Homo sapiens: one gene and its partners. The protein of the gene in region 4 purifies or fractionates together with the protein of the main gene of each other region. This does not show direct contact. Each region holds a gene or a part of one and is shown on either strand. Other genes may lie near its edges.

Evidence for each region. The genes of interacting proteins can lie anywhere in the genome.
Region 1: the proteins of RP2 (region 4) and QSOX1 purify together in Homo sapiens (affinity purification with mass spectrometry; 3 studies listed by BioGRID and IntAct, with this or other methods). This does not show direct contact.
Region 2: the proteins of RP2 (region 4) and GLMN purify together in Homo sapiens (affinity purification with mass spectrometry; 3 studies listed by BioGRID and IntAct, with this or other methods). This does not show direct contact.
Region 3: the proteins of RP2 (region 4) and SYMPK purify together in Homo sapiens (affinity purification with mass spectrometry; 3 studies listed by BioGRID and IntAct, with this or other methods). This does not show direct contact.

What each region holds. Positions count from the first base shown.
Region 1 is NC_000001.11:180,199,869-180,202,199, forward strand, and holds part of QSOX1 (sulfhydryl oxidase 1 isoform a precursor), read left to right. Parts: 3' UTR 1-2,331. UniProt on the Homo sapiens protein: Catalyzes the oxidation of sulfhydryl groups in peptide and protein thiols to disulfides with the reduction of oxygen to hydrogen peroxide. Plays a role in disulfide bond formation in a variety of extracellular proteins.
Region 2 is NC_000001.11:92,288,988-92,292,487, reverse strand, and holds part of GLMN (glomulin), read left to right. Parts: intron 1-950; coding exon 951-1,070; intron 1,071-2,157; exon of another isoform or gene 2,158-2,181; coding exon 2,182-2,290; intron 2,291-3,336; coding exon 3,337-3,500.
Region 3 is NC_000019.10:45,814,910-45,818,147, forward strand, and holds the end of SYMPK (symplekin), read right to left. Parts: intron 3,238-3,238; coding exon 3,050-3,237; intron 2,066-3,049; coding exon 1,889-2,065; intron 1,706-1,888; coding exon of another isoform or gene 1,669-1,705; coding exon 1,573-1,668; intron 1,275-1,572; coding exon 942-1,274; intron 789-941; coding exon 651-788; 3' UTR 501-650; downstream 1-500. Other genes in the region: RSPH6A (radial spoke head protein 6 homolog A), read right to left, coding at 1-267. UniProt on the Homo sapiens protein: Scaffold protein that functions as a component of a multimolecular complex involved in histone mRNA 3'-end processing. Specific component of the tight junction (TJ) plaque, but might not be an exclusively junctional component. May have a house-keeping rule.
Region 4 is NC_000023.11:46,875,043-46,878,542, forward strand, and holds part of RP2 (protein XRP2), read left to right. Parts: intron 1-2,462; coding exon 2,463-2,548; intron 2,549-3,500. UniProt on the Homo sapiens protein: Acts as a GTPase-activating protein (GAP) involved in trafficking between the Golgi and the ciliary membrane.

The sequences.
Region 1 (2,331 bases), on a different chromosome or scaffold from region 4:
GGCATTCTTGGAGGTCCAAGAGGGGCAGCGCCACCTTGGGCCAGGCTCCTCTCCAGCAGCCTTGGTATGGGGTGGGGGTGGGAAGACCCCTGATGCAGCCTGTCCTCTGGGTGTGGGGGTGGAGGAGAGGGCTCCAGGGGACCCAGCCAGCCTTGACCCTGGAGGAAAGTCAGGTGGGCTCAGAGAGAGCCCTCAAATCTGGGCCCTGGGTCAGGGTGGGGTCAAGTCCAGCCTTGAAGAGAATGGACTCTGGAATCTGACGTCTGGGTTTGAATCCAGCTTCCAACACTCACTGGCTGTGTGACTTTGGGCAAGATAACTTATCCCCTTGTCCCCATGTGTCATTGGAGATAAACTACCCACCTACCAGATTGTTGTACCATGCTGGGCAAACACTAAGTGCTTAATAATGGTAGCCCACTGCTCATGTCGTGTCGTCTCCTGTCTTGATACCTGAAAACTCAAGGGGCCCTGTTGTGCTTGGAGGGGGGTGCCGTTCCCACAGGATATTCTGTGAAGGGTGTCCCTGGAGCTGGGCCTCCAGGTGGCAAGCCCCAAGCCACCCCGGCAGGTGCCACTGGCCAGAGTTGAACTGAGGTGTTGAGTGGAAAGTGCCTCCCCACCCCCATCTGCCACAGTAGTATGGATTTCCTTCATGAGATGGGGCTCCTAAAATGCCTGAAATGTGTATGCTGTTGGAGAATTGATGTGTATGATTTATTGAACTTTGCACTCATTTAAATCTCATTTAATCCTCCAACAACGCAAGATGAAGAAGCTGAGGCTTAAAGAGATTAAGAAACATCCTATCCCCTTTACTCCCACCAAAATAAATACATTTGCCCTATTCTCCCAAATGGTGAGAGGTAGATCCAGGACTTGACCCCAGATCCCACCCACTCAACCCTGGAGCTGCAGTCTCTACCCCTTCTAACACATGTGATTCTGTTTCATGTCCTGTTCCATCGGTAGAGTTACACACTTTCCTGAGACTTTATATGGTGGTGCTGCTGGGTGCCAGCCCTTCTTCCCTCCAACAGTGGCAGTAACCACTGTTGTGTGTTGGTGTCAAGGAGTGGGGACACCCTGAAGGAATCCGCCTTTTCTAGAGCTCTCGCTCCATTCCCTACATCGAGGCTGAAGTGCCCTGTCTCGGGTCCTTGTTTTTAGGCCTCGTTTGAAGGAGGGGAAGAAACCAGGTTCGTTGGGCGTGACCTTGGCTCAGCTCGTCTGTGAAATTGGGGCCGCAGACTTAGTTTGCGGGTCCCTGCTAAATTCCTCTCCCTCTTCCTGGGATTCCCATCCATGTATTGCCAGCTACATGTAGAGTGGAGAGGAGAGGTTTTTCCTGCAGGGCCTTCCAGAGAAAGGATTCTTGGCCAGAGGAAATCACAGCCTATAAGATCAATATCCTGATAGAATCCCGGGCCAGGTGTGAGAGGGGAGAGCTCACTCACACCAGCCTGACAGTCTTGGGGCAGAGCGCCCCATAGGCCTCTGCAGCCCCATCACTGCCTCATTCTCCCTCAGGTGCCAAGGAAGCTCCAGGGTGGGCCCAGTATCCTTCCACAGCATCCCTCCTCTTCCCCTTCAACACCCCTTTCACCCCTCCCTCCACCACCTCTGAAAGGTGCTCCTTGGGCAGGGCGATAGGATTCCCACCCCTAGCTTTAAGAACTAAACCAAACTTCAAGAGGAGCAATTTAATCTTCATACCTGACTCCTTGTCCCTCCTCAGGCATGCTGTTGTGCAGGACAGAGCCCTGGCTTCTCCTGGATGTCACACCTGGCCTGTCTCTGACCCTTGCTTTCCCTTTCTCTGCTGCCCTCAAGGGTCATTCACACCCAAGAGGGTAAGAAGCTGCCCTCTCATCCCTTCCTCTCCCACCCTGGGCCTCTGCCCTCTGCCTGGCCCCAGCAGCACAGTCTTCTCCATAGAGAGGGGCTGGGCCATGGGACCCCAGTTCCTGGGGTCTCGGTGACACAGTTCACTGTTTGCTGCAGAGGAGGCCCCACTCGCAGCCTTGGCCTCTGCCCTGCAGAAGAATTCCCTGTAACTCACTCACCAATGGCCGTGGGAGCCAGTGGCCTCGGCGAGGGTCAGTTGGACTGCATAGCTGCCGGCTGAGTCTCTCTGGCCACCCTCACTGGCCCCATCACTCCAGGTTGCACTGCTGCCCAGGGGGTTTGTGCCAGGCCTGGGTCACAGTGGAAGAGAGTCTGGAAATCACAAGGCAGAGGAGGAGACCTTTGCCAATGTGAGAGAACAAAGTTAAGGGGCAGTCCATGGGGGCATTGACCTTACTTAGGTGAGGAGGACTCAGGGAACAT
Region 2 (3,500 bases), on a different chromosome or scaffold from region 4:
AGTGAGCTGGGACAGCGCCACTGCACTCCAGCCTGGGCGACAGAGCGAGACTCAGTTTCAAAATAAATAAATAAATAAGAATGTATTTAACTTTAAAAAACAGAGACAGGGTCTCACTAGGTTGCCCAGGCTGGTCTCAAACTCCTGGGCTCAAGTGATCCTCCTGCCTCAGCCTCCTAAGGTGCTGGGATTAGAGACATGAGCCACTGCACCCAGCCAACCACCGTGCTTTTAAAGAAGGACTCTAGGAGGGTAGTGATCTTATCCAGTGTGTTCCTCACTTTATTTCTAACCTCTAGAATATTATAGTGTAGGCTTGGTAAATACTGATGAGTTAAAATACAAAGCAGGCCAGAGAAGTGGAATACATTGTTGATCCTTTGAGAATTAGTGGTTTTGATAATGAATGTGAATTAGTCATTATAAAGATAAACTTTTACTTGTATGGTAAGCATTCTGAAATATCTTTGAACATAGAAGCCACTTGTATGTAGGAGAGAAAATTAATGAAGTTGTATCCCTTCTTTTTTTTATAAATTACAAGGATTATATTTAGAGACTCCAAGAACTTTAAAAGGTACATGAGCATTGGCTGGATTTCTTTATGAATAAGGGGAGCAAAATTGTCTGTGGAAGTTAAGTACCTGTATTAAGCAAATTAACTCTTTTGTTGGAAATAGAGGCACTATTTAAATCTTGGGAAACACCAACTTGCCTGATAAAAAGTAAAGACCCTTTTGCCTTTCCTCAGGGAACATATTAAAAACTATTTAAAAATGTTGATGTCTGTTAGTAGCCAACCCTGGAAAGTCTCTGGTGAAATGTCATAGGCTTCACTTGTCTCATCTTCCTATTTCAGAAACAATTCTGAGCTCTTCCAAGATAGGAAAGCACACTGCGAGAGTCCTATAGATGGCAGTGTTTGCTTTACTCTGAAAATGTTTTTACAGGTCATCATCAAGAATATGGGCTGGAATCTCGTTGGTCCTGTTGTTCGATGCCTTTTGTGTAAAGATAAAGAGGATAGTAAAAGAAAAGTTTATTTTTTGATCTTTGATTTATTGGTAAAGGTAAGTTAACAAAACAAGGTTCTCTTTATCATAACACACAGCAGTATTTTATAATTCCCTTTAATGTTTATTGTTTGGTAAGAAAGCTTTTGGTTCATGAAAGTACATGCAGAAAGGAACTCGTTGGAGAAAAGACCCAGTCTTATTGATTGGATAGGCAATTCCATTTCAGGATTTCCCAAATTTTCTGGATAAAAGAATTGTCTAACCTCATATTAACCTCATATCGGACCCATTGATTCAGCATCTCCAGGGAGAGACCTGGGAAGCTATATCTTAACAAGTAGCCTTATCGTATAGATGTGGAATACAAGCTTTAGAGAGGTAGTTCAAGGTCACATTTATCTTTTGGCAACATTGGAACTAGATTAAAATCTCAGTCCTCTTTCCTTTGTGGTATGTTCCCTAAAAGAAAATGGAAGGCCTAGAATACAAGTGATTAAAATTGAAGTAGGAATAGGGTAGAATACAGATCAGTTGTGACTAACAACCTTAGAAAGCGACCCTGGGTAAAAGGCTAGTAGAGTTTACAGTCAATATTTGATGGCCAAGAAAGATAAATTCTGAGAAAAAGTATATTATAAGAAACTGTTTAGTGATCAGTGCAAATATACCCAAATATATATTGGAAGGAGAGCTCCATCTGTATGAGTTATTGACTATGGGAGCTGGGAGCTTTTAAAAAACCAGTCAAGTGAGATGATAAGATATGGCCAGTCAGAAAGCAATGCAAAGTTTTACCTGTTCAAAAAATACAAAAGAGATTCCAGACTAGTCTAAATAGGCTTGCAGCATGGGATTGAAAGGTCCCACCTGCTGGAGCCCCTGAGAATCTGTTAAGGCAATTTCAGAGTGGACAGGTGAAGCTCAAAGGAAACCTGAGCCTAAAGATCCATTGACTTCTTGCTTTTTAGTTTTATAGTTACTTGACCATCACAGATTCTGTGTTTTGCTCATGCATATTTTTTCAACAATTGTATAAATAATTTTAATGTTAAGCAAAAACATAATTGTATAATATTTTGTCGATACATGCCTTCTTAAAAATAGTAATAATGTGGCTTTAAATACAACTTGTATTAAACAGGTTCAATTGTGAATATTTTTATAGTTATGCAATCCAAAGGAATTATTGTTGGGTTTGCTTGAACTGATTGAAGAGCCCTCTGGAAAACAGATATCCCAAAGTATTCTTCTTTTGCTTCAGCCATTACAAACAGGTAATGAGAATTTTGATATCAGAGTACTTCTTGTTGTATCTCTAAATGCCTTGATGGTTACCTCAAAATGTCAATACTACACCAAAGTAAAGTTTACAGCTAATTAGTGAGTACTCTGCTTAAACCAATAATAGCAATGCCAATGTGAATACTGCTGCTCATAGAAAGATTATAGTATCTGGCCAGAGTGGGTACCCAGTAAATATTCTGTTGAATGTCATACTATTTTTCATGTGCTATATTGAAAACTATACCTTTTTGCCTAACCTTCCTATCTGCTGCTTAAATCTAGAATTTTCTCTCTAAACATGTTTCAAGGGTTACCTCTGTGGTGTCTGCAGTACTAAATCTGATAGCATTATGGTAGTCTGGAAGAGTATCAGGCAAGGCATTGCTCAGCCTCTGCTTTGGGAGGTTGGATTGGGCATAGCAAAGCTACTACTGAAGAATGAAACGAGGAGATATGGGATGATAAGGCTCCATGGCTGAGTGCAGTAACAGTATTGGTAGGTAATGGGTCTTAGCAACCAAGGCAGACAGTATCCATAGGAAGAGGTTATTTTTCATTTTAGGAAATTCGTTTATCTCACAATCTGATAGAGGGACCTAGAATCAGAAATTAAATTTGTTTTAAATATGAATGCCTGCCAGCTTCATACTACCTGTAATATTCAGTCTTCTAGGGAAAAAAAATCTAATAATACCACCTCCTATTTGTGTAGTGCTTTATAGTTTACAATACACTTATATTTTGTGCTTATAACAACCCAAAAACATGGAAAGAACATGTTTCTGTCTTAAGTACATAGCCTGTTACACATAGTCTGTTATAAACATAACCTAAACAGCATTTCATGGCAAGATGCTGTATTATTTTATGCACAACTAAGAAGAAAAAAACACTGCCAATTAGACTGTGATGTGTCATCTTGATTCAAGAGTTGTTAAAATGTGGGAGGAGGAAGTGTCTTATAATTCCACATTTGCCGAATTTCTTGTCCCATGTTTAGCATACTTGATGAGCGACAACTTGATCTCTGTTTTAGTGATTCAGAAACTTCATAACAAGGCATATTCAATTGGATTAGCATTGTCTACCCTTTGGAATCAGCTATCTCTTCTTCCTGTTCCATACTCAAAAGAACAAATACAAATGGATGACTATGGCCTTTGTCAGTGTTGCAAGGCCTTAATAGAGTTCACTAAGCCT
Region 3 (3,238 bases), on a different chromosome or scaffold from region 4:
AGATGGGTACTCCATGCCACCCAGCCGGGCTTCCTCAGCCTGGAAGACCTGGGGCATCAGCAAGTTCTCCTGTTGGGACAGGCTGCCCCTCTGTGACCAACCAGGGGCGTTTCGCTGGGCGTCTGGAGGTATCTGCTGCCTCTCCTCGGGGTCCGCTGCCAGGGCCTGAGCTTGGTCCCGACTGTGCCGCCTCTGGGAGGCCTGAGAAGTCCTCCGGCCCGGAGGCTGCTGGGCAGGGCGCTCAGGGTAGGGCGGCAGGTCTCCCATGGTTCGCCAGGAGGCACAGATCTCTAGGAGAAAGGCTTGCAGACAAGGAGGCCAAGCGAGAGCCACCTGTCGACACCGCCGGTTTCTGAGCACCGAGAGAGGGGGCCGTTACCCGTGGAGGGCGCGGGGAGCGGGCCAGGGTGGGTTCCGCGCAGGCTCTGGGCGCGCACTCCCGATCCCGCGCAGCCCCACGGTGGACGTCGCGCCAGACTCGAGACGGCACCCGCGCCCCAGGCCCGCCATCCCTTTTTTTTTTTCTTTTCAGTAACTTGCCCAAGTTCACATCTTTTATTTCTTTTTAAGGCAAAGCACCCGCAGGTCAAGCCCCGCCCCGTCCCCCAGCCCCGAGTCCCTGTCCCACCCCCTTTCCCCCTCGAGCCCCGTCAGCTGTTCCCCTTGGCCTCGGGTTCCCTGGCGTCCTCGGCAGCCGGGCTGGGAGTCTTCATAGCATCTTCTCCAACAGGTGCGAGGGTCTGGGGGCTCCGCTCCTCCTTCAAGGTCAGCCCGCCCGCTGCCGTCTCCTGGTGACCGGGGAAGGAAAGGGCAGCCGGGTGGAGGGCGCGGTCACCTCCACGCTCCCCTTCAGGCCCTGCCCCCTGATGGCCCCTCCTCCCCCACCTTCACCCCGGCCCAGATCCGGCTTCTTCCTTCGCAGCGGAGGCTGCTCTCCCTACCTTGGGTAGGGGGCCCTCGAGACTAGAGTCCAACAGCGCGGCCTCGGTCAGCCCCGAGTCGTCATCCATGCTGATGAAGATGCCCGGGGTCTCGCACTCAGGCCCCTCCTCCCGGAAATCCATGGCTTCCTCAGACGGGGGCGGGCCTGGCCGGGCCGACGGAGAGGGAGAGGGGGAGGAAGAGGAGGGGGCTCCCACTCCTCCCGGCTTCAGCTTCTGTTCCTCCTCCAGCTGCCGCTTTAAGGCCTTCTCCTGGGCCAGTCGCAGGCCGATGAGGTCCTGAGGGGGCCGGGGTGCTGGGGCCGGGGCCAAGGTCAGGGGCTCCAGATCATCCTGGGGATAGGGAGGGCCACACAGAAGCTCAGAGGTGGGTGGCTCAGAGGACGGCCGGAAAGAGAAGGAACCACCCTGAGGTGGTCTTTGAGTTCTTCACCAAGAGCATGGGGAGGAAGGGGCAGTTGTCCCCCAGACCCCCAACTCCCAGCAGGAGCATCCCCTGGGAGACGGGTGGCCCAGAGGCAGGGGTGGCCTGAGTCTCTCGGGGTCAGGAGGAGGCCATGGTGAGCCTTGCTGGCTTGGGGTAGGGGGTGGGAGTCTGGGGATCCAGATGGGTGGGCTGCAGGGCCCTCACCTCCTCCAAGGGCCCCGCAGGCGCCTCCTTGGCCTCTGGCTCCTGCTTGCCGCTGGCCTCCAAGATGGTCATGATGGAGTTAGGGATGTGAGCTTGCTGGGTGGAGAGCAGGAAGGGGGCGCTGGGGGCAGCTCTGGCACAGAGACCCCATTTGCACACCTCAGGTCCGGGGGCCCTAACCCTCCAGAACTCCCAGCAGTGCAGGGCCTTCTTGTGTCCGCCTCCATCCAGTCCCCACCAACCAGAGGGACCCAGGGGGCCGCCCACCGCACACCCTGGGTGGGGGGAAAGGGTACCTGGTGGGGGGAAGGGGTACCTGGTGGGGGGTGAAGGAGCGGACATGGGCCAGCAGGGGCTCCCGGAGCTCTGGGCACTTGTCAAAGACGGCTCCCAGCTGCTGGGGCGGCAGCTGCAGGATGACCTGGAAGCTCTGGGGCTTTGTGCGCTGGCAGCACTTGATGAAGCCCTCCCACACCTTGGGGTACTTCCACACCTGAACCAGGGAGGGAGGGAGCCGTCGGGAGAGGCACACAGGCATCCCCCCGAGCCTTGACACTGGGAGAAAGACCTTGCCAAGACCATGCCCAAATCCCACCATCCAAGATTCCTCTGGATGGGCAACAAGCAGCCCCGACCTCCCTCCAGAGGCCTTTGTCTTCCCGATCCAGGCGGCTGGACCACGAGGGCAACTTGGGAAGGGGGTGGAAGAAAACTCAGCCGCCTTTTACCAGAGCTCCCCCTGGGCCAGGCCCAGGCTAAGTGCTGCGGGAGCACCTCTCATGACATTCTCACGGCAGCCTCCAGGGGGCGAAATTACCCCTGCTAAACAGCGGAGGTCCGTGCCGGTGCCGGGACCTGTCCTGGGTCACATGTACATTCTCACCGCAGCCTCCAGGGGGCGACATTAGTCCTGCGGGGTTTGGTTTTTTTGTTCTCTTTTTTTTTTTTTTTTTTTTTTTTTTTTGAGAGATGGTCTTACTCTGCCGCCCAGGCTAGAGTGCAGTGAGTGGCGCGTTTCTTCCTCACTGCAGCCCCAAACTCCTGGGCTCAAGCAGTCCTCCTGTCTCGGCCTCCCAAAGAGTTGGCATTACAGGTGTGAACCATCACACCTGGCCTTATCGTGGTATTTCTAAAGCCCAAATTTCTAGCACCTCTTAAAAAACTGGGCCATTTTTCAGCTCTGGGATGCATCCTGGCCGGGCACACAGCGGTGGAGGGTGAGGAGCAGCCATGCCTCTCCCGGGTGCACACCCCTTGAGGGTTACCACAGCTCCTACCACCCAGCTGCCCTCCCTCATCACCTGGGAGCTGGCCCAGTCATACACCCTGGAGCACTGCTATTTTCTTGGCAGGAGGCAGAGCAGAGCCTGCTGTCCTCCACCGGGCTCCCTCCGGGGTCAGACGGGGGAAGGGGAGGGCAAGCAGGCTAGAAGCTGCTGTCTGCAGCCTGGAGGCGGGGTGGCCGGGGATGGGTTACCTGCTTCATGATGAGGCGGGACAGGATGTTCATGACGAAGCCCCCCAGGCGGGGGTACATGGTCAGGGACTGGATGACGGTCCTCATGAGCAGCATGGGCAGGGGGCTCTGCTCCATCAGCTGCTGCATCACCACGGCCAGCACCTCTGACGTGTACACGTTCCGCTCCGCAAAGCACAGGTTGGTGGC
Region 4 (3,500 bases):
AATTTTTTTTGGCAGGAATACATAGATGGTACTGTTTCCTGTTGCATTAATTGAGAAGGCACATAATGTTTGATTGTTGTACTTTTAGGGATACTAAGATTTAATGGTTGGGTTTACACGGTGACGACCTTCTCTTTTTATTGTAGAGTTTCCTGCAGTCTTCTCTGTGGGATGCTAAAACCATTGATGATTGTTGCCTGAACCAATTGTTTTAATAGGCGTTGCAAAATGACTGTTTTCTGTATTTTCTTTCTTTTTTTTTTTTTTTAGCAAACTTACTTTTTAATCTTGTCACTACCTCTGCATTTATTAACAGATGTTAACAGAACTCCTCGTATGCCAGAGCTGTTTGGTTAACTTGAAATATGCTTCATGTCAGAAAAGCAGAATAAATAAAGAGAAAAATAAGCATCAATTTTCAGAGTAGTGAATTGGTGCCCTAGCAACCTCCATTGGTATACAGTGAATTTTGTTTCTCTCTTCTTTTTTTATTTTCCTTAAAAATATCTGGTAGTAAGGAGGATCTCTCTAAGTATCATTATGAACTCATGACTTTTTATATATTAATTTTAATAAATCAGAGTCATTATTCCTTCTGTTTCACTATGTCTCATCTTTGGCCATTGGGAGCCCCTTCAGGCTGGCTTCTGTCTCCTTTTGATAGAACCCCACTGGCCTTTGATAGCTTCATTACTTTTTGGCTGAAGAAAATATTCCACATTGACCTTAATCCATTTCTTGCCCCAGACATGGAATCATCTATTTTTCTAAGATTACTTAGTTATTTTTAGTGGGGAATGATATTTAGAAATACATGTTAGGTGCTATGTATTACTGGGTTGTCATTTCTTTTAAGCTTTTTCAGTGGACATAGCTAGAAACTATGTATTTTTAAAAAGGAAAAGATCATGAGTTTACATTGATATTTCTAAATAAAAATTTAAGATTTTAAGCTTTTCTTTTGTAAGGTTAGATGTTTTATTACAATATGTTCTTGAACTCCTGGCCAGGGCTGAAGGCAAGAGGATTGCTTGAGGCCAAGAGTTTGAGACCAGACTGAGCAACATAGTGAGACCCCATATCTATTTTTTTTTTGAGACATGGTCTCGCTCTGTTGTCCAGGCTAGAGTGCAGTGGCTTGATCATGGCTTGCTATAACCTCAAACTCCTGGGGTCAAGTGATCTTTCCATCTCAGTCCCTCGAGTAGCTGGGACTACAGGCCTGTGACCCTGCACCCAGCTAATTTTTTAATTTTTTGTAGAGACGGGGTCTTGCTTTGTTGCCTAGGCTGGTCTTCAACTCCAGGGCTTGTGATCCTCCTGCCTAGGCCTCCCAAAATTCTACGATTACAAGCATGAACCACTGTGCCCAGCCGTGAGATTCTATCTCTAAAAGAAATTTTAATACATTTTTAATAAAGTATACAGGAGGATGTGCATAAGTTATATGCAAATACTATACCATTTTATTAATATATAAGGGATTTGAGCAACAAATGGAACCAATCCTTGCAGATACCTAGGGACCACTATATCCTGCCTTTTCTGTATTTGTTGCCTGTATTATATCACAAGCCTCCAAGAAAAAAAAAATCACAAGCCTTCAGTTATCTTGATGCCCAATGTAGTGTAACCTTTTCTTTCTCATTCTTGTACCTTGTACTGCAGCACACGGTTACATTCAATTTAGTGTTTCATATTCATTCACTCTAGTATTTCATTACTTCGTACTTCATTATTCTGTGTTGGTTTGTATTTGTTTAATGGGTTTATGTCTTCTTTCAATACATTTGTAATTTCCTGGAGATCAAGACTTTTCCATCACTGTAGGAGGTTTTTAATGTTTTCAAATTAATGTATGAGAAAGGAGGCACAGATATTCTATTAAAAGGATTAAAAAATAAAAACTTTGTCTATGTTTCTAGAATGTAGCTTTAAGACACACTCAAGGAAAATACTTTCAGATGGTCATCACTTTTGGTGCCTGGCCTCAATTCTTATTTGGCTTAGCTTCATTATTGGTGGCCTAGAACTTGGCTGGTAAGTAGGAGAGTTGGAAGCAAGGCTGGCTGCCTGGCAAAACCTACTTATGTTGACTTGGATTGCTTTTGATCTTATTTGCTATTTTATCAACTATTTTTATACTCCTAAATGAGTAGAATTTCTGTGGTTTTTATAGAAGAATGAGAACCAGAAAAGCCAGACTATTTACAACACTTTAAAAATGTGACACTAGTCCTATAATAGTACTGAAGCTACTTGTTATGAGACTGTGTTAATTTGTTTTATGATTAGCGTAGGAAGAAGCAGCTGAGGTGATATGTCCCATCTGTCTGCTTTCCTCTTCCTTCTCTTTCACCCTCAAAGAAGATGCTGGAGATTCTTCAGGGAAGAATAAAAAGATTAAATTTAGAATATATTTGTATTTGTGTTAAGAAAATGTTTCTTGGGTTTGCTTATAGGTCCTGTTATTGCCTTGGAGTTTAATGGGGATGGTGCTGTAGAAGTATGTCAACTTATTGTAAACGAGATATTCAATGGGACCAAGGTACAAGATTTTATTGACTGTATTTCAATCTAACTTTTCATTTCATCTCCTTTTCCTTACAGTCAAATAATACTTTAATACTTTTGTCCCTAATGTTGCTTGGAATTTTTGGGGTGTGTGTGTGTGTGTGTGTGTGTGTGTGTTTAAAGCAGATCATGATTTTTAGAACCTTTGATAAATAATTGGGAACTAAGCTGTGATTTTTTTCTTGCCAAACTAAACTTTAATTGTTTAAAATAATTACAAAATAAGAATCTATTTATTAAAAACCTTCTATAGTATATGTTTCTAAAGTAAAAAGTCTCATCAAATGTCTTTTCAAGTCTTTGCATTTTTAAAAATACTGATTTGTTGAAAATATTTTATTTCTAAGATTATAGTCTTTAGATGGACGATTCTGTTGCCCAGGGTTCATTTTTACGCCCAGGGTTCATTTTTACTTGCTTCAGTAATGCTTCACCAAAAATTGAACTTCAGATATACATAGAAATCATCACATGTAGGCCGGGCGCGGTGGCTCACGCCTGTAATCCCAGCACTTTGGGAGGCCGAGGTGGGCGGATCACGAGGTCAGGAGATCGAGACCATCCCGGCTAAAACGGTGAAACCCCGTCTCTACTAAAAATACAAAAAAAAATTAGCCGGGCGTAGTGGCGGGCGCCTGTAGTCCCAGCTGCTTGGGAGGCTGAGGCAGGAGAATGGCGTGAACCCGGGAGGCGGAGCTTGCAGTGAGCCGAGATCCCGCCACTGCACTCCAGCCTGGGCGACAGAGCGAGACTCTGTCTCAAAAAAAAAAAAAAAAGAAATCATCACATGTAGGCATTTTCTAAATATATTGATGAAGTTGCTGTATCTAAGAATTGCAGACATAAATAAATTTAAAACCAAACATAGAGGATTACATTAGCAAATCTATAATTGACTACTTTTTGATAAATACCTGGGAGGACAT